Regions from separate parts of the Homo sapiens genome. Here region 1 is linked to region 2. Evidence: fine-mapped expression QTL. A gene starts in region 2. The other region holds a variant in brackets. All regions are shown on one strand. Distances are between the middles of the regions. Region 1 overlaps ZHX2 (zinc fingers and homeoboxes 2). Region 2 holds the start of ZHX2 (zinc fingers and homeoboxes 2).

Region 1 (16,384 bases), 190 kb before region 2:
TGGCAGTTAGTATAGGGATAAATGAATGCATGTATGAGAGAAAGGATTTATATCTATCTAGCCCAGGGATGGCAGATAGATTTGTGTTAATTATGAGTGCATCTGATTGCATGTGTTAAACAAATTCACTGAGTGATGGGTTAAACAAATAGGGGTTTACTTTTCTCACATATCAAGAAGTTTGGAAACAGGAAGCTGCAGCACTTGGTCATGGACTCTAAAGTCAAAAAGAACTCAGTCTCGAGATCACAAAATGCATACAAGACAAGAAAAAGTAAAGAAGGAGAGTAGCACCAACTATTCAGTGGCCTTCTGGTGATGTCTCACTAACTACACCTAGCTGAAAGGGAAGCTGGGAAACTGAGTTTCTCACCTGGGCATGGGTATGCTACTGTCTGCTATAGTTTGGTTTGTTTGACCCCTCCAAATCTCATGTTTAAATGTGATCCCTAATGTTGGAGGTGGGGCCTAATGGGAGATGTTTTGGTCATGGAGGTGGACTCGCCATTAATGGCTTGGTGCTATCTCTGTGGTGAGTTCTGGCTCTATTAGTTCCTCTGAGAGCTGGTTAAAGAGCTGACATCCCTCCCCACTTTACTTCCTCTCTCTTCATGTGATCTCTGCACAGTCAGCTCCCCTTCACTTTTTACCATGAGTGGAAGCAACCTGAGACCCCCACCAGAAGCCAAGCAAATGGTAGCACCACGTTTCTTGTACAGTCTACAGAACCATGAGCCAAATAAACCTCTTTTCTTTATAAATTACCCAGCCTCAACTATTCCTTTATAGCAGCACAAGTAGATGAAGACACTGCCTGAGGAATATCTTGGTTCTGTTGGCAAGGAAGGATAGGGGGATGGATATTAGTTGGGCAACCAATGGCATCCATCACATATTTCATCTCATGTTCCAAGGTTAATAGATTTGTGGTGGAGCATTGTGTTAAGTATCATGAAGACCTGACCAAGTCCAGCAGGCGAAGGTAGTTTGATTGATCATTAATATCTGCTGTGGGTGTGGAGTGGGGTATGACGGCAAGCTTAGTGTGCATTTGGCATCTTTTGTCCATCCCTTGTCCCTTCAAGCCAGGCTTTCTGCATCTTCCCTTGTTAGTTTTTCTAAACCCTGTTCACACCTTTATAAAAATCCTTTTTAATAAACCACTCCCAGTTTACCCATTGTAAGTGTTCAATTTCTTTCCTGCAAGGATCCAGATTAAGGCAGTCTGTAGTGCTTTGGGGGCTTGTTATGGATGAAGGTTTCAGAATTACTGGTGAACATTTTGGTCTCCCTCTGATTTTAAGTTTCTCAAAGTCAAGATCAGGATGCCTCCTACACTCTACAGGATACTCAACTTGCAGCATGTCATGGGATGTGCTCATGAAGTGTTTTTTATTCATTTTTATCGATCAACCCCCTTCCCCTGCCCAGGGCAATGATAATTTTTCTGCTGTGCTTTATACGTATGTCCAGCTGTGAGATGTTGGAGACAGGAGCTTTCAGCGATTAGAAGGAGGGAGCTGACATCTTTCCTGGTTCTCTCTGGGTTGCATTGTGACAGGTCAGTGAGAGCTATCCTTTCCAAGCACTGTTGGTTGGAAGTGGCTGTGCACCAGGTGGCCTAGAAGGACAAGTGTGTCATCAGCTGGTGGACCATGCTCTTTCTGCCCTGTTCTTCCTCTGCCTCCCTGTTCCCAGGCCCTAGGGTCTACCCTCTGCAGACAGGCCAGTGATGTATTATTAGACTTGCCACCCATCCCTTAGTGTGCTGGAGGAGGTTGGGGAGGAGCCATTTAGTGTCTTCAGAGCTGGGTTTCTTCAACTTTACTGAACATACGAATCATCTGGGGATCCTGTCAAATTACAGAATCTGATTCAACAGGTCTGGCATAGGGGCCAAAGATACTGCATTTCTAACAAGCTCCCGGTGATACCTATGCTGCTGATTCAGGAGCACATTTGAATGGCAAGGACTAAGAACCGCACCATCCAATACTGAAGCCACTAGCCAACATGGCTATTTACAATTGCTGTCTTTCCTTTCATTTTTATCTCATAATTTCATTAACCCACCAGAACTCTTTGAGTTTCTGGTGACAGAAACCCAACTCAAAAGATTTGAAGCTTAAGCTAAAAAGGAAAATATGTTGGTTTTTATGAAACTGGAAAGACAAGGAGTTGGCCTTAGGAATGGCAGGCTCCAGGGATTCACATGATTATCAACATTGTCATCACCACTGCCGTCATCACCGCCACCATCATCATCCCTTGCTCCATCCTTTATTGCTCCCTTGCCTCTTGAGTTTGTGGCCCCATTCTCTCTACTTAAGGACTGGCTTCCTCTCCCTGGCAGGGGCTTTGGCCACTGGTGGTTCCAAGCTAACATGATTGCACTTACCATCTAAATGGGAAAGGAAGCTCTTCCTCCCAGTATCTGACTTGGTGCTGTTTGGGTCTTATGCGTGGTACTGTACCTGTCCCTGAATAGGGTACTAGAGTGCCGTGGGTCACTGCTGTAGATCGGAGAGTGGGTCACCATGATGGGAAGCCCCAAGAATGAGATGAGTGGAGGGAGATATGAGTACATCCTCAAGGAAGAGAAGGAGTTCAAGAGGTATAGGGCAGACAGAAGCAGCAGCAGATGGTCGCTCCACCCCACCACTCTCTTCCACCTCACCAAGAATCCTGCCCCTCTATTCCCCCTAAGAACCTCCTTCCTAGTTTCTGCCACTCTTTAATCATTTCCAGTGGAGGAAGATATCTTGACATATTTTGCTGGGTGTTTAAAAGAGCACACCCATCTTCCCATTGTATTTTCATCCCCATCAATTATCAAGGCTTTCTCTTTGGGTCCTTCAAGCATTTGATAGCATCTCATACCATCTTGCTCGAAAGATTTATTTAAATTGCCTTGGAGTGGCAAGCTTAAGCACAAGGGTGGTAAATGGCAGGAGGGGAAGGCAGCCACCTGTCAAGGGAGAGAGTGTTGGAAATGTTCATTAATGGGAGGGAGGACAAGACAGTATGTGGGTGATGAGGTCTGGGGAAGGTTCAGGTGCTGGGGGCACAGGCAGGGAAGGCAGTGCAGGCAGGAACTGGGAGATGAGTTAGCCACAGCAACTTTAACTTTTTTTAAAGAAAAGTGCAGGTTGGAATTTTGGAATGTTTGTGGGTTAGGGAAGAGTTTGGGGGTAGAGGGTGCTAAAGACAGCGTTGGCTACATATGGCAAAGTCTCCAATGCCAGAAGCACATGTCTGGAATATCATTTCCTAGACCTGGATCCGACTTCCTCCTGGCTGCCCTTCTCACACAAACTTCCTATCCAGGGATGGAAAGGCACAGGTATCACACTGCTTGGGTTGATGTCACTCCCTGCATAGAGCGGTGGGAGGGGAATGGACATTTGTAGAGCTCTTATTGTGTGTTGAGTATTTTGCTCCCATGCACTCAGTTAAACCTCACACCAAACCTATTACGTGAGTATAATCATCTCCAGGTCTCAGATGAGGAACCAGGGCTCCAACAAAAGCTAAGTAACTCCCACAAGATCACCTAACTGGTCAGCAGTAGAGCTGTGATTCAAACTCAGGCTGTTTGACTGCAGAGCTGGCAGTCTTCATCCATCCATCCATCATCCGTCTATTCATAATCTATCCATCATCTACCCATCTATTATCCATCCATTCACCCATCCATCCATTAACAAATATTTATGGAGCATCTACTTTGTGCCAGATGCAGTGCTAGGCACAGGGGATACAGTGAGGAAACAAGATAGATACAGTCCTTACTCTCATGGAGCTTGCAATATAGTGGGATGAAGAAGGCAAAAAACAAACAGATACATGACGATATGTTGTGAAAAGCAAGACGGAAGATAATGAAGCATGGTTAGAGAAAAGCATGAAGGGTAGGCAGGGTCAGGGCTAGAGTGAGGCACATGAGGCACCTAGGATGAGAAATCTTGGCAGGCACCCACTTTCAGGCTTCTGCAAGTGCAGGGTTTGTCACCTGCATGACCTTTCTGCCTTAAACTTTGCACCCTTAGGTGCGTTCCTTGACTCACCCTAGTCCTACCTCTGCAGACAGGGGGTCACGGAGGGCAGGTGACACTTGAGCAGAGATCATAACAGAGAGATCAGGTGCTCTTAGAATGGACCAGGTGGAGTGTGGCATCTGGAGTGTGAGCTTTGAGAGGGACTGAGAAGAGTTCATTAGGGAGAAGACATCCTTGCATCCTGCCTATGCCACAGACTGGAGGAGTGCAGGGGACTGAGAAAGAATGAGGAAGTGGTGAGGGAGGTCTGAGGATAGACGTTGATGGAAGGTATCTCCAAGGCAACTGGAGCTCACAGTCAATGGCTGCTGCAGGATTGCAAGGCTTCTAGTCAAGGACAAGAACTCTCCAACAACACAAATGTGCTAGATGCTGATATTCATAAAAAGGGGGAGGGAGTCTGTCCAATCCCTATAATTTTAATTTGGGTCAATCCATCCATGCATTATGCACCCAGGAATAACAATGGCAACCCTGAGAATTTAATAGATACGAGGAACTATTCTAAATGCTTTCCCTATACTGACTCATGGTACCTGCCACGATATGAATAGACACAATCATTATCTCATTTTACAGGTGAGTGAACTGAGACACAGAGCGAATAAGTGACTTGCCCAAGGTCATACAGCTAGTAAGTGGCAGAGCTGAGATTTGACCTCAGGCAGCGTGACTCGAGCCTGTGCACTTAGTTGCCTTACCTTCTGCTTCTTGATGTCACTGGAACTCAAGAGGAATAAAGACATACCTGGGCCCACTTCGCTCATGGCAGAAGGCTGAAACTCACCTGTTGTCATCCTTTTGACTCAATGTGGACTTGGGGCCCTTTGCTCAAGACCTCTTTCTTTGTCTCCCATTTCTCATCTAGTGGGTCTGACACTCCAAATAAGCCCTCTTTAGATGTGATCTTGCACTCACCTGCCAGTCCTTCCATTCTATCTACTCCAGGACCCTCTCCTCTGTGATTCAGCCCCTGCAGCCCCTGAGAGCACCAGTCAGGGAGACTGAGGCTTCAAGACTATATTGATCATGATTTTTGGTTTTAAGTTCCAAAAACCCTAGTAAACCAGCTGAAAACATAAATAGTTCATTCTGGGCTCATGTAACTGGGGAGGGTGGAGGTAAACTTGACCTGAGATTGCTCTATCCTTGATATCCACTCTCCCCTTCTTCCTTTCAGATACAGAGCCCCTTCTCTGTTGGTTCTTGGCCACCTATCCAGAGCCTACATCCCCAACTTTCTTTCCATTGAGGTGTCACCATGTCTAGGTTTTGGCCAATAGGATAGGAACTGAAGTGACCAGTTTCTGTTTCATGACCTTAAAACTGAAGTTCTTGCTCTCCTGTTTCTCAAGGGCTGGAATGTAGAAGTGGACTTTTGGCCACGTGGATGAGGAATTGAAGCAGTCAGTTCTGATCTAGAGATGGAAGGCGCCTGCTGAGGACAGCAGGGCTGCTTGGCACCCTGGGTCCCTGAATGGCTCTGTGGAGCACTGCCTGATGGCCCACCCTGGACTGTTGCCTGAGACAGAAATAAACTTTTATCTTGTTTCAAACACTGCATTTTGGTGTTTCCTTGTTCAAGCAACTTATCTACTATGCCATATTCCAACAACTGTAATACTAGCAAATATTTGCTTTTCTCACTGAGTTTTTATGTTTTGTAGAGAGACATCCTCCCCATGGCAGAGAAAATAGCTGCAGTCAGCCCCAGGCCCACATCTTTCTTTTTTTTTGAGATGGAGTCTCACTCTGTTGCCCAGGTTGGAGTGCAGTGGCGCGATCTTGGCTCACTGCAAGCTCCACCTCCCGTGTTCACACCATTCTCCTGCCTCAGCCTCCTGAGTAGCTGGGACTAAGGTGCCCGCCACCCCGCCCAGCTAATTTTGTATTTGTGTTTTTTAGTAGAGACGGGGTTTCACCATGTTAGCCAGGATGGTCTTGATCTCCTGACCTTGTGATCCACCCGTCTCAGCCTCCCAAAGTGTTGGGATTACAGGCATGAGCCACTGCACCTGGCCTGGCCCACATCTTCTTAATTTAGCTACCTAAGCAGAAAGAATGAGCTTTTTTTCTCTTTACAGCCATCTCTCAAGAAGAGGCTTGGTTGGCCCTGCTTGACCCACATGCCATCACTAGGGCCAGGGGACGGGAACTATGATTGGCTAGGCTTGGATCATGTTGCTTGAGCAGGTCTGTCAATAGTCACAGCACAGCCTCATGGAATGGGGAGGGCAGTTCCCATAGAAAAGAGGCTGCTTTTACCAGAAGCAGCAGGTAAGGGACACATAATAGGCAAAATTAGTAGGCTCCCATGACAACCGCTTAGTATCTGCATGTTCTTGGGCTTGTTACAAAACCTAAGCCTCAGTTTCCTCATTTGCAAAATGGGGGCACCTATCTCACAGGGTTGTAAAGATAAAATAAGAAAATGTATGTAAGGCACTCAGCGCAAAGCCCAACCCATAATAAGTGCTCAATAAAAAAGATAGCTATGATTTTTACTTTTATTTATTTATTTTTGAGATGGAGTCTTGCTCTGTTGCCCAGGCTGAAGTGCAGTGGAGTGATCTTGGGTCACTGCAACCTCCACCTCCTGGGTTCAAGTGATTCTTGTGCCTCAGCCCCAGTAGCTGGGATTATAGGCACATACCACCACACCCAACTAATTTTTGTATTTTTAGTAGAGACAGGGTTTCACCATGTTGGTTAGCCTGGTCTCGAACTCCTGGCCTCAAGTGATCCGCCCGCCTCGGCCTCCCAAATTGCTGGGATTACAGGTGTGAGCCACTGTACCTGGCCTATTTTTATTTTTGAATCGCTGTCTACATTCAACTTTGCTGAGTGGTAAAGAGAATTAGCGGAATTTTGGAGAGGTGTAAAGTTATGGAAAATCTATGGCCCCTGCTCTCAGCTTGGGGGAATCGACAAGCTGACCAAATGAATCCGAGAGCTGTGTGGTGAGGGCTATGTGCAGAGAGGGTGTCATGGGAGCCCACAGGATGGGGGACTGAGGGAATCCCCCAGAGAAGGCCAGGCCCTTTTGAATCTTGAATTTTTCAGTGTTTCCTGTATTTTGGGAAGTGGGTCTTTCCCGTTATCTGTAGAATAAACACATGCTAAGTTTAGATAAACTGGCCAAAAGTCTGTAAGTTCCCGTAAAAATGAACCATCTAGACCAGAGGTTCCCAAGGTGAGGAACTTGTTAGCAATGCACATTCTCGGTTCCCACCCCAGACATGCCGATCAGACAGTCTAACCAACCTTCCAGGTGATGCTGGTGCCCACTCATGTTTGAGAACCACTGGTCTAGACGAGTGTCAGGTGTGAAGAGTGAGGGACTCTTTAAACCTCACCAGGGCAGAGATACTTAAAAGCCACCTTCTCAGAGAAATGGCAGTGCCCCAGCTACCACTCGCCAGCAGCCCAGGGAGGGGGAGCGACTTAGCTCAGGTCATCCAAGGGCGAGCCTGTGCACAGAGGGGCTTCTCATTCCCACTCTGAAGCTCTTCTCTTGACTATTTTATGAATCTATTTGTGAGACCCGGGAGAAGGAAGGGCCTATACCTTCCTTCTCTGTGTCGATGAGATCTGCTGAAGATTCCTACAACACTTACATCCAGTTTTTTTTCGGTGGGGGGAGGGAGGGGACAAAGTTTCACTCTCGCTGCCCAGGCTGGAGTGCAGTGGCGCCATCTTGGCTCACCGCAACCTCCGCCTCCTAGGTTCAAGCGATTCTCCAGCCTCCTGAGTAGCTGGGACTACAGGTGCACACCACCACACTCAGCTAATCTTTGTATTTTTAGTAGAAATGGGGTTTCACTATGTTGGCCAGGCTGGTCTTGAACTCCTGACCTCAGGTGATCCACCCGCCTTGGCCTCCCAAAGTGCTGGGATTACAGCGTGAGCCACTGCGCTGGGCCTACGTCCCATTTTTAAAGTCCAGTTTGCGATGTCAGATCCCTCCAGGATGGAAAATGAATTTGAAACGGGAGGTATCCAAGTCAGAACCCTTACACCAAGCCCTCGGGAGCCAGACGACAATAAAGAAGGCGAAGTAGAGGAAAAGGTTATAAAAATGTTTAGTCTTTGCTTTATTGAGTTACAACAAATGAGCAACAAGTTAGAAAAATTGGTTTTATTCAAACTTCCTAGCGTTTGACTTGTGCGGTGTACTCAAATGGGGGGCAGTGTGGGACGGGGAGGGATTGCAACCAGAGTTCATACTGCAACACGTACACCAGATATGTCTCTTGGTTTTCCTTCTTTTAAAAGTTAGGACTAACTGAAAAAGTGCACTCAGGTATCTAAAATTGTCCCAAAACAAACACACACACAAACAAAAAAAATCAATTCATGGTGAGGCTTTGAGCTAAAATCTTGTCAAATACCACACCGAGAAAAGGCAGTGAAGAAGAGAAATGAAAACCAAAGCCATTCACCTCTGTACCCTCCAGATAGGAAGATCTTATTGTTGTTGTTTTAATGTCACAATAGTACTGATCATGCTAACAGAGGCGGGAGCCTCTTCTGCTGGTATTTAGAAAGGTGCTTAAAGAAGTCAGCCACCTGCTACCCAGTTCTCCCAGGGCTGGCTGGGCACAGCCTGGCCCAAGAGGCCGAGCAGTTGAGAAGCCAGATCCCCTCTTGGCAGTTCAGAAAGCCTTGTGTGGGGCTAAGGCAGGGACCCCCAAAAAGGCAGCCAGGGGAAGAACTGGAAAGGAATTTGATTTGGAAGATCTGCCGTCTGTCACCTCTCTCCAAGTTGAGACAGGGGCCTGGATTTCAGCCCTTCCTGCCGAGAAATCTCCCAAATTTCAACCTACCTTTAAAAATAAAGTCTCCCTACTTAAAATCCAGTAGATATCATGGCACTAATGCTAACACCCCTTTCCCCAAATTAATAAAACAAAAATAAAAAAAAGAAAAAGAGAAAAGAGAAAAGCAAGGTGGTTAGCCCTCCCTCCTGAAAAAAACCTTACAATGGTAGTGCTGGAAAAGGAAGTTGCCCTTGATTAAAAAGGTAACAAAATTCCCACATTGTACAAATCGGTTCCAGTATAGCAAGAGGTGAGGGCTAGGGCAGAGGAGCAAACTATGTACAAGGACCCA[T/C]TGAAAACGCAGTAGTAGGACTTTGGCACTATGAACAATTCCCACCGGTCCTCTGGGAGGTGCGTCTGAGAGTCGCTGGACTTCCCGCACCCTCCAGGCACACGCGAGCTAAGTAGTTCCACTTGGAGTCACTGGCAAGGGTGGCCCATGGCTGGGGAGAGACCATCTCTTCTTTCTTCAAAGACGGAGCGTCCCGTTGATCAGCACAGCAGTTCTAACAGACTTCCCTAGAAGACACAAAACCACAGAGTCAAGATGTCAGGCAAATGACCATTGTTCCCTGGGGGGAAGGCATCATGGTTTGCTTCTTCCTGGCTCTCCTGGGTTGGGGTGGGGGCCTTCCAAAGTCATCCTGGGGCTTGGAAGAGAGACACATGCCCTTCATGTACGGGGCCTGTTGTAAAGAAACGAGTGTGTTTTCTGAGCACAGTCCGCCATAATAGGAAAAGCCTCCAGAATCAGGCCTTTGAAAACAGAGTGACTTTCTGGGCAAGTGAAGGTGGTGGCCTGTGATTCTTTTCATCCTTACAAGACCCTTTTATTATTCCTAGAAAGTCAACCAGTCCCAGTGGCTCCTAAAAGGCCCTGGAGTCAGACAAATCTGGATTTGGGTCCTAACTTCTCCCCTTAGTGGCTGCAGGGCTGTACCTATAGGACTTGATCACTCTAGGGCTTAGTTTTTGCTTCTGTATAACAGGGATGACACTAGCACCCACCTTAGAAAGTTGCTGCGATGATGCCATGCGTTGATGTACACAACAGTATTTGGACTAGTGCCTGGCACATGGTAAGTATTGTAGATACTTCTGCTGTTTTTATTAGATGGAGCCTTTTCCAAACGTGGTAGGATATAGAAGAGTGATAAGATGAGGCATTGTAAATGTGTTTTTATTTAATGTTTATATGAATTCTAAGAGGTGTAAATATTATTATTATTCTTATTTTACAGTTGAGGAAACTGAACATATAGGGGCCTAATAAGTTTCCCAAGATCACACAGCTAGTAAGTGGCAGAGCCAAGATTCAAACCCAGGTAATCTCTAGAGTCCGTGCACTTAATAAACAGAATTATTAAGAATCAGTAGGAAGAAATGTTTAATTCTTATACCCTTGGAAGTAATGAAAATAGTCCAAGGACCTTATTATAGGTGGAATGGTGTCCCCCCAAAAGTATATATTGAAGTCCTGATTCTCAGTACTTCAGAATGTTACCCTATTAGAAATGCCTTTAGAGAGGTAACACAGTTAAATCAAGTGAGAATGAGGCCATCAGGGTGGACTCTAATCCAACATGACTAGTGTCCTTACAGAAGGGGGAAATTTGGACACAGAGACAGATGTGCATAGAGGGAAGATGTGAAGACTCACACACAGGGAAGAGACCATGCGATGATTGAGGCAGATATTGGGCTGATGCATCCACAAGCTAAGGAATGCAAAAGACTGTCGGCAGACACCAGAAGCTGGGAGATGGGCACAGAACAGACTCCTGCACAGCCTTCAGAAGGAAGCAACCATCACAGACTCCCTGATTTTTGTCTTCTGGCCTGCAGAACTGTGAAACAATAAACTTCTATTGTTTTGAGCCATCCAGTTTGCAATACTTTGTGGTAGGTAGAGGAAATGGGGGCAGGTCTCCATCATTACTTTTGTCTCCTCCCAAGATCTAGAGATCCTGGGAAAGGGATCCAAGCAAGGCTCAGGTCTCTAGAGGACACAGCCAGTATTCCATGACAGGCTAGAAGTTTTTCAGATCTGTAGGTTCTCGGAGCCACTGGCCTTTTCTTTGCCTCCCTCCTGGTAAGGCTGTTTGGCTGAGAAAGCCCTGAGAAGGAATTTTTTTTTTTTTTTTTTTTTGTACAGGGGCCAACAGCAAGGAGAGTGGACTTCTCAGCCAGAGGCATCAGCTGATCATCGATAATGCCATTCATGCCTAACATCTGGATGTTAAACGCACCCACATTCCCTAGATGCTCCTGGGAGTAAGATTGAATATTGGAGTTAAGAAACCAATTTATAAAAGAAAAGTCTGCAGATAAAACCAGATTCCAGGGGTGACCTTAGAATCTGGACTACCTAAAAGTCATCCAGCCAGAGTCACCAAGTTGTAAACACTGCAGGGATCCTTATAGGTGATGTTGTCAAGATCACTCATTTCACCAGGAAAAAAAAAAAAAAAAGGAAGCTCAGGAGGAAAAGTGCTTTCTCTTAGGCCAGGACCTGCTCAGTGGCATGGTCAAAAACAAGAATGATCATGACTCTCCCTCCAACAGTGAGAGTAGCTAGTTTCTCACACCAGGCCCCATGCTAAGTGGTAATACGGCTCATCTCATCTACTCCTTACAGTGACTGGCAGGTGATTGGCAGACCCACTTCATAGCGAAGAAATGGAGGCTTAGAGAGATTAAATGTTGTGCTTAACATTAGGTAACCAGTGAGTGGTGAAGCCCGACTCCACCTTGGCCAGTCCAACTTCAGAGCCTCCTGATTCTTAATTGCTCCTCCCTGTACCTATTTTGGGTCCAGGTCATGCACAGCCTCTCCATGCACAGAGCTAGGTAGCAATTGAAGAGAGCATGGTGGCTTCAAAGGTAGGGGGCTGGGGCACCCAGTGAGGACCACGAGCCTTATTGCTGATCCCAGGCAGAGCCACATGCACTCCCTGGGTTGGCACAGTAGCCCACGGCCAGCCTCTGCCGGTGCTTTCCAAGAAACAGGGTTTTCCCCAGCAAATGGGGACTTCCACCACCTTTGGGAGGGAGGCTGCCACTGATTGGATGTCCCCCTGAACACTTCCAGATCCTAGGAGACAAGGCCCAAGGCGGGAAGACAGCTACCGATGTTCTTTCTCCCAACCCGGCTAAAGAACGTTGGGTCAGCACAGGACTGCAGGATGGGGTGGAAAGAGCTGTGGAGTTGGAGAAAGCTGGGATCCAGGATCTGCCACTTCCTGGCTACGTGCTGAGGTTGGTTACTTAACCTCCCAGAGTCTCACTTCCATTGCACAGAGCCCACGGGCTGCTGGCAGGGTTACAGACAGGGTGCAAAGCAAGCAGGCTGACCCCCCCATCCGCTCCCTGTGGAGTCTGGCCCATGCAGCATACTCAACAGGCATTTGTCAATGAATGGAAAATGGAAAGTGAGCATAGTGCTGTCAGAGGAGTGGCTGTGACCCAAGGGTGGTGACAAAGTCCACATTTCAGGATTGCTGTTCTATAGAGCATTGCAGTGCTTTGGGCTGTGTGGCTCTTGCTAACTCCCCTGGGCTTCTCTCAGAGTCCTATTACCTGGTCAGAGACAGTCACCCAGCAAAGGGCCAGTGCCTCATCCTAGAGTACCTCTCAGAGCCCTGGAGGATGCTGCAAGGCCATCGGACAGGCATTTCCTTATGGCCTCTGGGACATTTCTACCACGTGATGTCCAGGCTCTCGGTGAACACGTCCCAGGACAGGAACCCACTGCCTCCCACCCTCCCTTTCTGTCTTGGGGAAAACCTGGAATGTTAAGAAGTACTAATTCTTTAGCAAAATCTGCTTCTCTGTTACTTTCCTCATTGGAGAAACAAAAACATTAGAATTGTTTTCCCATGTGACAGCTTTCTGTTTCTGTCTCTCTTTAATTTTCCCAGGAGAACTTTCTCTAGGGCCCTAGGGACTTGGGAGTGAGTAACACTGCACTCCAGGAGAAAGGAAAACAAACACTGAGAGAGTGATTGATTATCTCTCCATAACATTTTTTTTGAGAGGTGTAGCAAGGTTTATTGCTCATTTGCCGAGTGCCTGTTATCTGCTAAACATTTTGTTCCATTGTCATCTGGCTTCTATTTTTGATACGGACAAACCTGTCAGTTTAACTGTAGTTTCTCTGTAGGCAACGTCTTTTCTTTCTGGTTGCATTTTTTCCCTCTTTGCCCTAGCTTTATTGACGTATAACTCGTTTGCAGAAAGCCGCACATAATGGATGTAATTTAGTGAGTTTGGGCATATGCATACACTCATGTTACTGTCACTACAATCCAGTAACAAACATAAAGTTTGCTTGTGTCTATTTTTGGGGGGGGCAGTGGGGAGGTAAGGATATAACATGAGATCTGCCCTCTGAACACATTTTGAAGTAAATATCTTCCTATTAACTACAGGCACTATGTTGTACAACATACCTCCAGAAGTTACTCATCTGTATAACTGCAACTTTACACCCATTGTATGAAAATTCCCCACATCCCCCTGCCCCATCCCCTGGTCAACATCACTCCACTGTCTATTTCTGTACTGCTCCATAATATTTCTCTCTCTCTCTTTTTTTTTTGAGACAGAGTCTTGCTCTGTCACCCAGGCTGGAGTGCAGTGGCATGATCTTGGCTCACTGCAATCCCCACCTCCTGGGCTCAAGCAATTCTCATGCCTCAGCCTCCCGAATGGCTGGAACTACAGGTGTGTGCCACCACACCCGGCTCTAATTTTTGTATTTTTAGTACAGGTGGGATTTCACTATGTTCGCCAGGCTGGTCTCGAACTCTTGGCCTCAAGTGATCCACCTGGCTTTGCCTCCCAAAATGCTGAGATTACATGCGTGAGCCACTGTGTCTGGTCTGCTTCATAATATTTCTTTTTCTTTTTTTTTTTTTCCAAGATGGAGTCTTGCTCTTGCTGCCCAGGCTGGAGTTCACTGGTGCAATCTCAGCTCACTGCAACCTCTGCCTCCCAGGTTCAAGTGATTCTCCTGCCTCAGCCTCCCAAGTAGCTGGGATTATAGGCGCTCACTACCATGCCTGGCTAATTTTTGTATTTTTAGTAGAGATGAGGTTTCACCATGTTGGCCAGGCTGGTCTTGAACTTGTGACCTCAGGTAACCCACCCGCCTTGGCCTCCCAAAGTGCTGCGATTACAGGCATGAGCCACCGTGCCTGGCCTGCCTCATAATATTTGAGTTCAAACTTTCATTTCTTTTATTGAGGGTAGGGGGCACAGTCTGATTTTTAACTAGAATTTAAAAAGGGGAAATGTGTTGGACTGGAGGAAGATTAAGCAACTTCCCAGTGGATGACAAAAACTCCGTGCCATCCCAAATTGTCTGTACACCAGGCTTGAGTCAGTTTTGGCCACATCCCGCCAAAGCTCTCCTTCCCTGCGTGGTTTGAAGGGCCTCTAGGGTTGGGGAACTTGCTGAGACCCACAGGCCAGGTATATATTCCTCAAGCTGCTTGCAGGGAGGCTCAGAGACAGTAGGAATGCCTTTCCTGCTCCTGGCCTATCAGTGCATATTGGCCAGGGGAATTTAATAGAACCAGAGCAAATGGAATTGTATTTTAAACTCACTGGGCAGATTCCCCAAAGTGCTTACATGTGTGGGTGTAGGGGTGGATTTGAATTCCAGCTCCACCACTTTTTACCTCAAAGACTTGCACGAGCTACCTTTCTGCACCGCCTTCTCATCAGCCCTAAATAAAGAAACTAACATGAAGCCCTGCCCAAGGAGAGTCTGAGCTCAGACTCGCCTAACCCTGCCCCCACCTGATGGTTTGTCTCTACCTGCCCTGGTAGCTGAAGAAAAAAGACATAATCTTTTGGAAGTTCTGTGGTCCTGTCCATTGCCTAAGAAACCCGAGTACTCATCCTGGCCAATGTAGGGCAGAATTATATCCCCTTCTACTACTGCAGCTGGCGCTTTCCTGAAAGCACCACCTCCCGGCTGGAGGCCAACCAACTCAAGCCATTACAGCAACTCATAACAGAACAACCTTGCTTCAAAGGAGCAAACAACAGCTAATGCCACTGCCTGCAACATCCTGGCTAACCAGAGGTCCTGAGTCTGTCCATGTGGCAATTTTACTGCTGGTGTAACCAGCATTTGAGAAAACCACTGCACTAAACAAAACTACAACCAAGGACTCCCAGAGTCCACTTCACTCCCATGCCACCTCCACTGGAGCAGGTGCTGGTATCCAAGACTGGGAGACCTGAAGATGGATCATATCACAGGACTCTTTACAGACATTCCCCAGCACCAGCCTGGAGCCCAGCAGCCCCACTGGGTGGCTAGACCCAGAAGGGCAATAATTACCACTGCAGTCTGGCTCTCAGGAAGCCCCATCCCTAGAGAAAGGGGGAGAGCAACACATCAAGGGATCACCCCATGGGACAAAAGAACCTGAACAGCAGCCCTTGAGTTCCAGATGTTTCCACTGAAACAGTCTACCTAAATGAGAAGGAAACAGAAAAGTAATTCTGGTAATATGATAAAACAAGGTTCTAAAACACTCCCATAAGATCACACTGGCTCTCTAGCAACGGACTCAAACCAAGATGAAATCTGAATTGCCAGAAAAAGAATTCAGAAGGTTCATTATTCAGCTACTCAAGGAGGCACCAGGAAAAGGTGAAAACCAATTTAAAGACATTGAAACAACAATACAGGATATGGATGAAGTCTCTAGAGAAACAGATATCATAAAGAAAAGACAGTCACAACTTCTGGAAATGAAAGACACATTTAGAGAAATGCAAAATACACTGGAAAGTTTTAACAACAGGATCAAACAAGTAGAAGAAATAGCTTTAGAGCTTGAAGACAAGGCTTTTGAATTAACCCAACTTGACAGAGACAAAAACTAATTAAAAAAAATGAACAAAGCCTCCAAGAAATTTGGGATTACGTGAAATGACCAAACATGAGAATAATGGTGCTTCTGAGGAAGAAGAGAAATCTTAAAGTCTAGAAAATTTATTTGAGGGAATAATCAAGGAAAACTTCCCTGGTCTTGCTAGAGATCTAGATATCCAAATACAAAAAGCTCAAAGAACACCCAGGAAATTGATCACAAAAAGATCATCACCTAGGCACATGGTCATCAGGTTATCTAAAGTCAAGATGAAGGAAAGAATCTTAAGACCTGTGAGGCAAAAGCATCAGGTAACCTATAAAGGAAAACCTATCAGATTCACAGCAGATTTCTCAGTAGAAACCCTGCAAGCCAGAAGTGACTGGGATCCCATCTTTAGCCTCCTTAAACAAAATAATTACCAGTCAAGAATTTTGTATCCAGTGAAACTAAGTTTGATAAATGAAGGAGATATAAAGTCTTTTTCAGACAAACAAATACTGAGAGAATTCACCACTACCAAAGCAGTGCTACAAGAAATGCTAAAAGGAGTCCTAAACCTTAAAACAAAACCCCAAAATACACTAAAATAGAACCTTCTTAAAGCATAAAT
Region 2 (13,708 bases):
GTTGTCAGGACTGTTTTTCTGCATGGGGTCTGTTTTACACACACACACACACACACACACACCACTGCCAATCAACCCCTCTTAACTGCATGATTACAAGTGTAAGAACAGGAAGCAGACTGTGGGTGGATGTTCTTAAAATCACAACCTGCTCAATGTAGGGTGGGGGCATTAGAGAAGGGTGGGGGAGGGGAATCACGAGTTTTTTCAGTTCAAAATGAAATAATCTTGTCAATACAGAAAATAATGTCTACCTTATTGTCTACCAAAGGGGCATGTGCACAGCCAAGCATCCTTCCTGAGATGTGCTGTCTGGATGTGGCTATGACACAGCACATTACGGTACCTCATGTGCTGGTACCGTACGTGTGGTACCTGATGTGTGGTACGGACTTGCCACAAAATGAGTGCATGTGTGTACTGGGGGTGGGGGGAGGCAGAAGGGGAATGGCAATGAGATGGGACAGTCAGGGTCCTGGGATTGATGATGAAATCCACACATGCTAATTACTTGGCACCTCAAATTTACAATAAAGTCACTTTCTTGAGGTGGTTGCAGTGATGACGGTGATTTGTTGAGCACAGTTCACATGTGAGGTGTGTGCTAAGCCTTTTTACAACTTTCTTAAGTTTCCTAACAACTCATACAGCAGCTACTAAAGTGATCTCCATTTCAGAGATAAGAAAATTGAGGTAAGTAACAGCTCAAAGTCATAAAGGTAATACCCTGAGCAAAGAGAATCAGAGAGGCTGGCCCTTGCTGGAGGAATCTAGCCTGGGGAATCTGGTGCTGGGAAGGCCTCTGACATGCTCTGATATCATCTCCTTGATTTAAAGCAATGGTGAAGGTCATGGCCAAAGGTATCCTGCTGATGAGTGGTGGAGCTGCAGCTAGGGCCCAGGAGACCCAAAGGTCAGGAAAAAGGCAAGTGTAGTGTTTGGAGAGTAAATGGCACCCCCTTCCAGCTTTTCCAGTCCCACTAACTGAATTATCCAGAAAGGAGAGCTGATTGCCTCCCTGTAACAGCTGACTCACATCAGGTTAAGTTTGGATTCTTATTGACAGGACCTAAAAGCAAATCATCCCTCACTTCTTTATTGTACATGGTCTTCTCTTTGCCCTGAGGCAAAACTGTTCCCTGGCCTGAAACTTTGCAGAACTCGTTTTATTGCAAATAAGAACTAAGCTCGTTTGTCTGCACAAGGTACTCTGCTGTCAGTCTTAGTCTTCCCTTCCCCAAACACGTGACCTTCAGAAACCTGCCATAGCTCCCTAGTACCTAGAGATTAAAAGCCAGCCTCCTCCATGTGCACCCCCAAGCCTGGCATCATCTCTTTGCACAGCCTTCCCTGCATCCCCCTCTCCACCTCCCCAGGGTACCTGTCCACTGCTCCCAGGGCCCTTCTTTCTCAGGCGGCACATGCCCTCCCTGCCAACTCAACAACCATTCCTCCTTTCACCCCGTCTGCCTTACAAGTTGAACCCCAATTTGCTCATGACAGCAATGGGTCCAACTAAAAATACTTGACTGCTCTTCCCTGGCAGTAGTCACCATGTGGCACAGCTCTGGTCAATGAGCTAAAGACAGAAGTCCCTGAGAGGGGTGCCCCTTCCCAGATATAGCAGTGAAGCTGTACTGGGTAAAAGCTCTTTGAGACTCATTCATCCTTTTTTCTCTTTCTTGGAATGCAAACCTGAGGCCTAGAGACGTAGCAGCCACTTTCCTACCATGAGATGATAAACCTAAGGCCAAAGGCCTCCACTCTAAGCATGGCAGTGTAGAAAGAAGTAGTCTGGGTTCCCAATGGTACAGCTGAGGCATCATCTCCCTTTACCCCTCACCCCGTTGTTGTCTGACACAAAAAAGTCCCTATCTGGTTAAGTCACTGGTAGTCAAGAGTCTGCTGCTAGCAGCCGAATGCAGTGATATTGGCTACACCTCTGGACATTGTTCCTCTTCATTCATGGGGCAGTTCAGCTGCTCCCACCTCTAGGAGATCCTCTGTGATCCCCTCAGAGCAGAAGAATCATGCCTTTCCTTGTGCTTCCACAGTGGTTAGTTTTCTCAATCATAGCACTTATCTAAGCCTGCTTGATTTGGTTTAATGAGTGCTTCCCCGCAGTCGGCTCAAACTCCTAGAGGGCAGGGGGTGTGTATCCCACCAGCATCTCCATAATGTCTGGAGCATGCAGTGCTTTGCGTTTCTGCCAGGGGGGCTCTGTCTCCCCAGCATTTCCATACATCTGGTTATGCGCTCTGCATTGCAACAGCAGAGTGTGTGTGTTCTGGGGGCTGCCACTCCGCTTACTAGCTGTTTGGACTTGGGCAAGTTAGCTAACTTACCTGGGCTTGTGCCTCCTCATCTAGAAAAAGGAGAGAATGAGAGTACTTACATCAGAGTTGTCATGAAGACAAAATAGTCTAGTCATAAGCACTTGGGATAGTGCCTGGCATACAAAAATGCTTAATGGCTATGGGTTCTTATTAGTATAATGAACATTATAGTTGCTGAATGAATAAATAAATCAACACACAGTTGCTAAATAAATGAATAAAGGAATAAAATCCAGGTAAATTCTGAAGTTCGGACCTCAGGACAGTGGCTACTGTTCCCTCTTTTCTGCTGGACCTGACCCTTTACTTTTTTATTCTAACTGTGACGTCGTGTATCTGAATGCTGCTACAATGGACTGGTTAAGGCTATGAAGTTAGGCCTGGATTTGCTTTTTGCTGTGTCGCTCAGGCAAGTTTCTTCACCTCTTGGAGCCTCTGTTTCCTCAACCATAAACGGAGGATAATAGTAGTACTTAGCTCACAGGATTGTGGTGAGAATTAAATGATAAAGCACGTAAAATATACAGCATTGTGCCTCACACACCATAACAGTGTTAGAAACTGTTATCAAACATTGCCATGATTATTTTTGATAAGTGTACAGCATCCCACCAAATCACATGGTCCTGATGTGGATGAGAAACGCCGGGTGGGGCCACCTTTCAGCATGTCAAGATACACTGCACTTACATCACAGGAATACCCTTTCTTCAGTGCCAACAAACAGTGGTGTTTTCCCCCTTCAAATGGACATTAGTTGAGATAGCTGATGTGCCCCAGAATCTTGGTTTCTTGCATTTTCCCCTGAAGCACAATCTTCAGGTGCATCCTTTAGCTGACAGCAAACCTGGCTAGAAGGAAAGGTACAAGTGCGCAAGAGAACAATCGCGGAGCAGAGCATTTAAACAGCGATGATATTTCCACACATCACCAGTCCAATTATTGTCAGTGACACATTTCAGCCTTACTTGTAGATTTTTTCCCTTCTGGCCTTAAAAGAAGCTGTGTATACAGCTTTACATAACTTTCCCTTTAAACTTAAACCTTTATGGTAGTCCCATTCAACCACTTGACAGCTCCATTAATCTATTTTTACTATTAAACATGCCATTTTACAAGATATTTATTCCACTTGGTCGTCATCCAAACGCTTTTTGACATTACTGCCCTGGGAGTGAACTGCTTAAACTCGCTGCCCTCATAAACAGAAAATCACCTTTTGACTCAAATCTTGAAGAGCTCTCAGAACCTCACCCCCTTCACTTCTACAGGCATTAATTTCTGCCATATATAAAGGAGAGAGTGAGTAAGTGTGTGTGTGTGTGGTTTTAAGAGGGTAATTGTGGGAGGTCTGGGCAATTCAAGAAGTGCTGGGGGAAGGAATCCTCTCCTCTAACTCCATTCTGCTCATCGGGGCCTGCCTGAGACCTGGAGATCTGGTAACTTAACAGAGAGAAAGTGATCAGAGAGCAGGTTGGGGAAGAACTCCAGGGCCTAAAAGGCAGTGTCCCAGGGGGCCAAGCTGAGCAACCACTCTTTAAAAGGGGAGGGGTCGAGGGAAAGTCCTTATTCATCGACTTCTCTCCTTCTCCACGCCCCAGACAAACAAAAGGCCACCGCGAAACAGTTGAAGGTAGAGACCTACTGGCTTTGAAGACTATCAATCAGGTGGAAACCTGAACAAATCACAATTTGGCTTCCTCATCAAGTTTTCTCCCCAGCCTGACAAACCCTCCTCCGCCGCCGCCTCCACCTCCTCCTCCGCCTCCCAGGCTCAGCACAGCTACGAGGCCAAAGGGACCGTCCTGTGATGCCTGCTGGTTTCCAACTTTCCGCTCATCTTCGTCTCCGCAGCCTCCTGCAAAGCGGCTGGGAAAAGGGCAAGTTTGCAAAGCCGAGGATACAAGTCCTGGGGAAGCCACAAAGAAGCTGCAACACCAACAAAGATTAACCTCTTGTGGGGCAGACGAAAAGCGCCAGCTGCCGTTCAGGGGGGCGAACGTGGGCTCGGGCTGGCAGAGGCTCCGGCCAGCTGGCAGCGGACAGCAGGGCCGGGGGTCCCGCGGCCGCCCTCGGCCCCCCGCCCCGCGCGGACTCCCCCTGCACCTGAGCGGGGGTGAGGACAGCGCCGCGCTCCGGCCCTGCCCCCGCCAGGTAGCTCGGCTGCCGCCCGCGCTGCGCGCCCGCTGCCTGCAGCCGCCGGGAGCGACGAGAGCAGAGGCAGCCTCGGCCCACGGCGTCATGCTTCCTGCCACCACATTACGGCGAATCGTCACCGGGAGAGGGGAGCGAGGGGAGAGGGGGAGGGAGGGGAGCAGACACACGCAGCCCCCCGCCTGCCAAAACGCGCGGAGACGGGGCCACGTCCCGGTGGAGTCCCCGCGGGACCTGCCCCGTTTGCACAAAGCGCCGCAGTTTGGCCAAGAAGGGAGGGAGACGGCCACGAAATAAATAAATAAAAACAGTCGGGTCTACGTAACGCCCTGTCGAAAGCGGACGCCATATTTTTTTGTGGCTTATGTCGACATAGGGAAACGTAGACATGTTTTTCCTCCTCCTCCTCCTCCTCCTCGCTCTGGCTCCCATTTATCCAAACTTGTAATCAAAACTCTTAAAAAAAAAATCTTCTTCCCTCTCTGTATCCGCTCATTTCCTCCCACCCGCAAAAAGAGCCTGCACACCCCCCCCCTTCCGTACCCCCCTTCCAATCACAAACCCGGCCAAGTCCCATTAACAACACATTTTCGGGAGCCGCGGCGGCGACGGCGGCGGTGGGAAAGTTGGGCTGGAGTGGCCGGCGCCCGGCGTGCGGGGTTTGGGGCCGGCGGCGCCGGCTGGGGGGCTCCGCGCCGAGGCGAAGTTTCTTACCTGCGCTGGGGCTGTGAACGCGGGGACCCGGGCTGGGAACGCGGAGACGCGGCACGGGCGTTCCAAAATGGAACTCTGCTGGCTCCCCCCACCCACTCCCCACTCCCCACCGGGCGCCCGGCTCGGGCTCCGTGGGAAAGAGGGGGAAAGCCAGCCTGCCAGCCAGACAGACAGACAGAAAAAGCCCCCGTACGGAGAACGATGGCCAAAATTTTTAAAAGAAAAAAAAAAAGGAAAAAAAAAGGGAAAAAAAATGCCTCGATCAGTGGGGAATCTACGCCAAAACCCACATGATCTGTAACGTCAGCATGCGTATTTGCATACGATACCACCACCCGAGCTGCCACCCGGGCTCGGGTTCCGCAGAAAGTTACAAAGTGAAATTCAGCCCCCTCCGGAGACACCGGCGAAATGTCATTTTTCAGGCAGGAGCTGGGGGGGAGGCTAGCCCTAAAGGCGCTGGTTACTGGCCAAGGTAGGGGGGCAGTAAATTAACTTAAAAGTCTGAGCCCAGTAACGGACTCGGTGGAATTTCTGCGAGAAGAGGAGGGGGAGGCGCGAGCGAGATCATTGAATATTAAGCACGACCCCGCGCGGCGGCCGCGGCCAAACCGTCTCCGTGCAATACCCATTTTCTTTATGAAAAGTTCAAGGTGTCACTGATGAGCTCAACAAACTGTTGATCTTGACCACGTGGAGTGGCGGACCGTGGGACCGAAGGGCGCGCTTGCAGGCCCGGCTCTGGCGGTACCCGGGCCCCGGGACCCTTTGCGTGGGACTGTGCGCGGGTGGGGCCACCACGCACCCTGGGCGCTGCCTGCGCCTTGGCCCGGCTTCAGGCTCAGGAAAATAATAATAACGATTTTAAAACTATGTTGAGCGAGACACATTTTACTCCCGGAATGATAATGAGAAGGCTCGGCGTAGGGAGGGGAAGAAGGAGCCCCCCACTTATATAACGACTTGAAGTTATATCACTTTTGCTTGGGGAGATTCCGGGATTTCCGCCCGCGCCAGGTCTGAGGCTGGTTAAAGATCTTCAAACTTTTTTCCCTTAAGAGCCAATAAACAAACAGACGCCCCAGGGGCCGACTTAAACTCTGGTAGAGCCCGAGTTCGCTGGAATTCTCAGATTCGAAGAAATGCACACGCCTGCGGTGCTCGCAGAGAAGTCCCTCGGAAGCTAGGCGGGTCGCTTTCGCAACTGGGACTCCAATGTTCCCAGTGGGAGCGGAGCTCTCACCGCGGCAGCCCCCAGGTTCCCCTAGGCGCCTTAGAGCAAAGGTGGCGGGGGATCGCGCTGCCCTTCGCCCGCCGGCTCGGAACCATGAACTTGTATTCCGGGCGCCGCGCTCCTGCCACAGTGCTCGGCTAAAGAGCTCTAAGGAATTCGGGATCTGGGTACACTTCGGGATCTCAGGCGGCAACCTGTCTGCGCCGCGCATTCCTGCCCAGATGTACCTTGTTTCCCCCTGGGCTGGCCTGTGGACTCTTGGGCAGCTCCCGGGCGGGGACGAGGGGATGCGGTCTGGGGGCTAGTTTAGAAGCTTCGAGCGCAGCGAGAAAACAAAGGGAGCCTGGGGCTGGGAGGCTCTGCGGAGTCCCCGCCCGCCCTGCAGATTAGCAGGCGCGTCGCGTCGGGGCTTCCCGGGCAGCTCTGCTCTGGGGAATTAGAACGAACTCTAGCGGCCGTTTGCAACTCGGCTGTGGGCGCGAGGGCATCAACAGGTGGCCGTGTGCAGCGGAGAGGCCAATGGCGAGGACCCGGACTGGGGTGAGGACGGCTGGCCTTGGGGCTGACTGGGTGGCGGATGCGCTGGGTGACCTTTTGGCTTTTTCATTTCCGAGGCCGGGGAGAAGGAAGTAGCTAAAAGGTTTTTGTAAGTTCTGCCCTAGGGCTCTAATTTCTGACATACCCCTTGACTCCCCAGAAATCCTTTGCAACAAAAATTAAAACAGCTCATATGCAAAACTTTCTTAATGGCCTGCACCTGTTTGTTCGGTTATTGCTGATGTAGGGTCTGTTTGTTTGCATTTTAACCGCCCATAAAACAAGATTCTATCCTGGGAAGGAGTCTCTTGCGTGATGCTCGCGGACCTGAAAGGCGACCTGGAGGGGCTCTTACAGGATTCTGTTAACTTCTTGATGACTGTAATCCAGCTTGGGCCACATCTTTCTCAGCCTCATTTGGTACCGGCTAAGAACCTAATTTACTTGCCATCAACATCAGAATTTACCGCTGCCTGATCTCCTCCCAACCTCTGCCTCACCCAGGGTGAACCAAAATTGTAAAAAGAAAAGAAAAAAATATGGGACCCTCCCCCCATTCCCCCGCCTTGTCCCGTCCCGCCGGCCACACCAACTTCAACATTTTTACATCGCTTACCTTATTATGCCCCTTGCAGGCTATTCCACGCCCTGCCCCCCCCCCCTTTAAAATAAGTCTAGTTCTGTCTGTTTCCATGGAAATTACCCAAACCTTAACGAAGCTATTCCTATTTTGAGGCTGCACCTCCTCTGGATGATCAATCACTTAGGAGGGTTTTCTATAAGCCAAGTTTCCCTTGCTGCCACCTCACTGCCACCTGCTTCTGGCTGGGTGACAGATTGTATGTAGGGTGGAATGGGCCAGGTGGGAGGGAAGCCAGGTAACCCTCTAAACAGTCTGCTGGGTTCTCATATCTTCAGAGCACTTGGATCTCATGGACACTAGCAAGGATGAGGGGCTTCTGATGTGTTGCAGTGTTTTAAAATTGTTCAGAGTTTAGCATGGACTGAACTTGCACCATATAAAGAGAAAACAATGAGGAATAAGACAAAGGTGGCTTTTGCTTTATGTGGTATGATCCCTGTTTGCTTGAAGTATACTCATGGAGTAGACAGACCGTTATCTGACAGTATTTAGGAGCTTCAGAATCAATAATGTTGGACAAGTAAATGTTCAGCCAGGAAGTAACGTATGCCACTTTCACTTACAACTCATTGGTCAGAACTAAACACAAAGTTAACTGTAAAGATCCATGGAAGTATTGTGTGCCTGGAAATGGAGAGAATGGGAAAGATTTGCACTAATATGATAGCACTAAGGACTATCATAAATAATAATAGCAGTTCACAATTATTGATCATTTACCATGTGCTGAGCCTTTTATATGTATCATCTCATTGAATCATCACAAAAATCTATATTTTGTCTTTATTTTACCGATATAGAAACTGAGACTTAAAGAGCTTAAGTACTGTACCTTGCTCGACATCACACAGATGCTAAGTAATGGAGTTGGAATTTAAGCTTAATTTTACCTGCTTCCCAGAGAATAGACTTTTAAAACACTGTCCTCAACCACCTTTGGACTTAATTGGTCCCCTGTTGTTGGGCATTGGGTAGTTTCAATTTTATTCCAATGAACAACCTTGTGTCAGATCTTTTGAATCATCTGCGATTACTTCCTTAGGATAAATTCCTAGGTACATATTTGCTTAGTTGAAATATACACACATTTCAAGAATAAAAACCTTTTGCAAAAAGTGAAAGCTTTAGGAGGTGTGGTAGTCTTCTAAGATGGCTTTTTTCAATCCTTTCCTTCCTTTTTTGAAAAATACATCACCATTAAGAGGTGGAGTTTACTTCCCCTCCCTTGGAATCTGGACTGGTCCTGTGATTGCTTTGGATGCAATGAAAGTGATATTCTGAGACATCTAAATCCAAGTCTTAAGAGACTGGCAGTTTCTGTTTCCTTCCTTTTAGGGTCCTGCTGCCATGCTGTGAGAAGCCGAAGTTTCATGGAGAGGCCACATGGAGTGAAAACAAAGGTGATAGGGACAATAGCTCCACCTGAGATCCTGATTAATACACAGACTTTAGCCATCTTGGATGCTCCAGCCTAATCGATCTCCCACTTGACTCTAGTCTCACCTGACATTATGTAGAGGAAAACCATCCAGCTCCACCTAGTCAACCCACAGAATAATGAGATGATCATAAGACTGTAGTTGTTTAACATTATTAACTTTTGGGGTGGTTTATTACACAGTGATAGATAAATAAAATGGGAGTTATTATCCGTGTCTTTATTTGCACATATATCTGAATATTTCAGATCTACTTCCCCCTGAACTCTGCAGGGTATAGGTAGCATTGTGAAATATTGGAGGCCAGGACAAGGGGTAGAGAGGCCTCTTGGTCCATGATGCCTGAGCTGGCCCACTCTCCAAATCAAAGCTTTTCTTGATTTTAGTTGTTGCTCATGAAGGATCCCGCGCCACAGGTCCCAGATCCTAAGCAAATAAGAACTCATTTATCAAGCATAGATACTCAGTAGGTACTGGAGTTAAGTTCCTGTTTGGTGTTGCCAAAAACAGAGGTTTCCATTATTTAAGGATATACACTGTGATAGGGAGTGCAAGTGCCCACCATGTACATGGCTGCCTGGGAGGTGCTTCTTATACTTTATGTAATTTAATCTTTTAAACAACCTTCTGAATAGTATATTGTCTCCTTAATTTGTGGGAGAAAACAAGTTTATAGAAGCTTATGAATTATCCATGGGCCATACAGCTGATAAGTTAGAAGCAGGTCTTGAGCCCACATTTGATTGATTACAAATCCTGCCTGCTTCCCACTATACTTGTGACTTGCAAATTAACTCATGTGCAAACCCCCTTCACCAATTTTGTCCCAGTAGCAAAGGAACTACCTATAGTATTTTTAATTTAACATTTTATTTGGCCAGGGTCATGGCTCACACCTGCAATCCCAGCACTTTGGGAGGCTGAGGCAGGTGGATCATTTGAGGTCAGGAGTTTGAGACCAGCCTGGCCAACATGGTGAAACCCCATCTCTACTAAAAACAAAAAAAAATTAGCCAGGTGTGGTGGTGAGTGCCTGTAATCCCAGCTACTCAGGAGGCTGAGGCAGGAGAATCGCTTGAACCGGGGAGGCAGAGGTTACAGTGAGCCAAGATTGTACCACTTCCAGCCTGGTGACAAAGCTAGACTCTGTCTCAAAAAAAAAAAAAAAAAAAAAAAAAAAGAAAACATTTTATTTACATTGATTCACATTTTTAAAACTTAAATGCACTTATTTCATACTAATACTAAAGAAGCCTTTTGTCACAATAGAAACAAGAAAATCCAATATTGAATTTTCAAATGAACCAATGAAAGGTAACAGTGAAAATAACCATGGGAAAAAAAAAACAGCACTATTGAGCTAGCTAGATACTCTTATTTGCAGAAGGTAGAGATGGAGGGGAAAGGTGTTAGAAGGTTATTAGAGACAGGGTAGCACCAAACTGAGAATTTTTTCTTGAGCTAATTAAAAGGATGGGAAGAGAATTGAAAGTTGTAACTTTCTCTGAGTCAGAGCTATTTTGTGCTGTACCTGGACATCATTTAAAACCATCTCATGGCCACACATGCTACTTAAGCGGTACATGTTTCACACTGCTGACACCTGGCTGCCTGTCACAGTTCTTCATGTATGAATCTATTACAATGTTGCTCCCTCTGAGAGCATAAGAATCAGTGCCACGGGTTGAAGGGCTGAATGTTTGTGCTCCCTTGCCCCCCAATTCATATGTTGAAATCCTAATCCTCAATGTGATCATATTAGGAAGTGGGCGGGGCCTTTGGGAGGTGATTAGATCATGAAGGTGGGGCCTTCCTGATAGTGATACTGGAGTGCTGGGTAGAGAAATGTGGGTCCCTGGCCAGGGCTCCACCCCTACAGACCTAGGTGAGGACAGGCTTTTGTGAGGACTAGGCTAGGTGAGGACTCCTGCTTTTGTGTCTAAACGTTGCATTTTCCAAGACCACCCTGGCCCGCCACACCCTCATCCTGGTCCTATAAAAACCCCAGACTCCAGCAGGTAGACACAGGCAGCCAGATGAGAGGGGCAGTTGGAGAAGATTTGGGCCGCTAAGCAGCCTGACTCCAGGGGAAAACCATCTCCCTTCTGGCTCCCCCATCTGCTGAGAGCTACTTACACTCAATAAAACCTTGCACTCATTCTCCAAGCCCACGTGTGATCAGATTCTTCTGGTACACCAAGGCAAGAAACCCTGGAATAAAGAAATCCCTCTGTCCTTGTGATAAGGAAGGGGGTCTAACTGAGCTGGTTAACACAAGCCGCCTATAGACAGCTAAACTAAAAGAGCACCCTGTAACACACACCCACTGGGGCTTCAGGAGCTACAAACATTCACCCCTAGGCACTGCCGTGGGATCGAAGCCTCATGGCCTGCCTGTCTGTACACTCCTGTAGAAGTTTGAGTAGCGGGGCACTGAAGAAGCGAACCACACCCTCATTGCATGCCCTGCGAGGGGGACAAGGGAACTTTTCCCATTTTAACGGGATTGGTGCCCTTATAAAGGGATACACCGGAGAGCTCACTTTCTCTCTCCCTGCTTCCCTCTAAGTGAGGACACAGCAAGAAGATGGCCAGGAAGAGAGCTGTCACCCAAACCTGATCATGCTGGCACCCTGATCTTAGACTTGCAAGCCTCCAAAACTGTGAGAAATAAATTTCTCTTGTTTAAGCCACCCAGTCTCTGGTTATTTGTTCTATAGCAGCCTTACTTAAGACAGTTCAAGGAACTTGAAATTCTGTAAACACCAACTAACTGATTTCCCTGGCTCCAATTTCTATGTCTACTATCCATGCTGTCACCAAAACACATATCTTGCTTGGTCACCTCCTTGCTTACAATCTTTTATTGCTTTCTACTTCTTTGGGGTAGCAGAAGTGATCTTGCATAAACTTGTCCAAATCAGCATTTCCAGCCTAGTCTTCTGCCTCTTCTAATCTTGTCTTCTACAATTTAGCATCACTGGGTTCCTTGTCACTCCCTACATTTTCCATGATCTTTTCCATCTTTGTAAATGGTGCACCCTGTACCTGGAATGGCTTCCCTCTTCCTCGGTCCTTCAAGACACAGATCAAATGTCACTTTCTTTAGGAAGCCTTCCTGTACTCTCCCAAAGAGTTAATCCTGCCACCTCTGAAGTCCTACAGAACCTTGCACTTAACCTTGAGTTAGCAATTATTGCCCAATAATCTAGTTACTTCTCTGTATTTGTTGTATCCATTTTACTATAAGTCCCTTGTGGATGAGTATTTCGCCATAGTCATCTCTGTGTCCTTGTTTCTTGCCTCACATGGGATATATAGCAGGCAGAATTCAAAGATGGCCCCCAAGATTCCCAGTCCCTGGTTATTCAATCAACCATGGATGTAGGCATTGCTGTGAAAAGATTTTGCAGATGTTGTTAAAGTGCCAAATCACTTGCCCTTGAAATATGGAGATTATGAAGATTATTTGGATAGGCCTGATCTAATCATATGAGTCCTTTAAAAGCAGATAGGTTTCTCTGGCTGGTGGCAGAAGGGAAAGTCAGAGACATTCAAAGAATGAGAAGGATTTTACACGAGGGAGGTTTTCTGTTGCTAAGATGGACCTGAGAGCCACTTCTAGAAACTGAGAGCAGACCCTGGCTGACAGTTAACAAGACACTTGGGACCTCAGTCCTAAAAGCACAAGGAAATGAATTCTGCCAATAGCCAACAAGCTTGAAAGAATACCCTGAGACCTAGATGAGAAGCGCAGCTCTGATTGACACCTTGATTTCAGTCCAGTGAGACCCGGAGCAGAGAATCCAGTGAGGCCATGACTAGATTTCCGACCTACAGAAATTGTGAGATAGTGAATTTGTGTTGTTTTATGCTGCTAAGATTTTGGCAGGTGTTTTTTCCATAGAAATAAACAATTGATAAAGGGTAGATGCTGAGTGAATGTTTGCTGAATGAGTAAGTGAATGAAAACATGCATCATTCAGCAGCCATAGATGACATTTAAGGGGAACGCCTTTCCCCACTCCTGGTTTCCAGGAGGAGGGGTTTTCTCCAGAGGATGTTTCTGCTTCTCTCTGACTCTGGAAGTGTCTGGCTCAGCTGCACCCTTCCTCCTCGGGGCACTCCCCTGAGACCCTGAGACTCCTTTGTTCTGCGTCTTAGCGTTGGTTGGGGCACTCCCAGCCAGCAGCACTGCCTGCACCTGTGTGGGTATGCCAGTCTCATTCTGGGTTGTGTATTTGCAGCCCACATGGCTAACAGATGATATTAGTCAGCTCAGGCTGCCATAAAAAATGCCCAGCTGGGTAGCTTAAACAACACTTTTAGGCAGCTGCCATCTTGCTACGTGCTCTCATGACTACTTTGTGTGTATGGAGAGAGAGAGAGAGAGAGAGAGAGAGAGAGAGAGAGAGAGAGAAAGAGAGAGAGAGAGAGAAGGAAAGCCAGACAGAAACAGAGCAAGCAAGCAAGCTCTCTAGCTCTCTGGTATCTTTTCTAATAAGGTCACTAATCCCATCATGAGGACCCCAACCTTACGGCCTCATCTAATGCTAATTACCTCCCAAAGATCCCATCTCCAAATACCAAAACGTTGGGGAGTAGGGCCTCAACATATGTATTTTGAGGGGACCCAAACATTTAGTCCATA

The links.
Region 1: its variant is fine-mapped to the expression of ZHX2 in monocytes (Fairfax 2014, PIP 0.95).

Annotation. Positions count from the first base shown.
Region 1 is chr8:122,966,255-122,982,638 of GRCh38, reverse strand. ZHX2 (zinc fingers and homeoboxes 2) reads right to left here. Exons shown (of 4, transcript NM_014943.5): 4 at 8,129-9,397. Among named protein-coding and RNA genes, the nearest start is that of DERL1, 68 kb to the left of the region's middle. RefSeq lists silencers at 11,466-11,515, 12,436-12,535 and an enhancer at 11,786-12,195. The variant T/C (reference allele first, on the strand shown) is at 9,171.
Region 2 is chr8:122,773,443-122,787,150 of GRCh38, reverse strand. ZHX2 (zinc fingers and homeoboxes 2) reads right to left here and starts at 5,496. Exons shown (of 4, transcript NM_014943.5): 1 at 5,205-5,496. It overlaps ZHX2-AS1 (ZHX2 antisense RNA 2), which reads left to right and starts at 5,547. Exons shown (of 2, transcript XR_007061082.1): 1 at 5,547-6,978; 2 at 8,954-9,267. RefSeq lists enhancers at 176-275, 3,645-4,179, 4,835-4,884, 6,052-6,551, 6,552-7,053 and silencers at 3,505-3,584, 4,365-4,494, 4,715-4,784.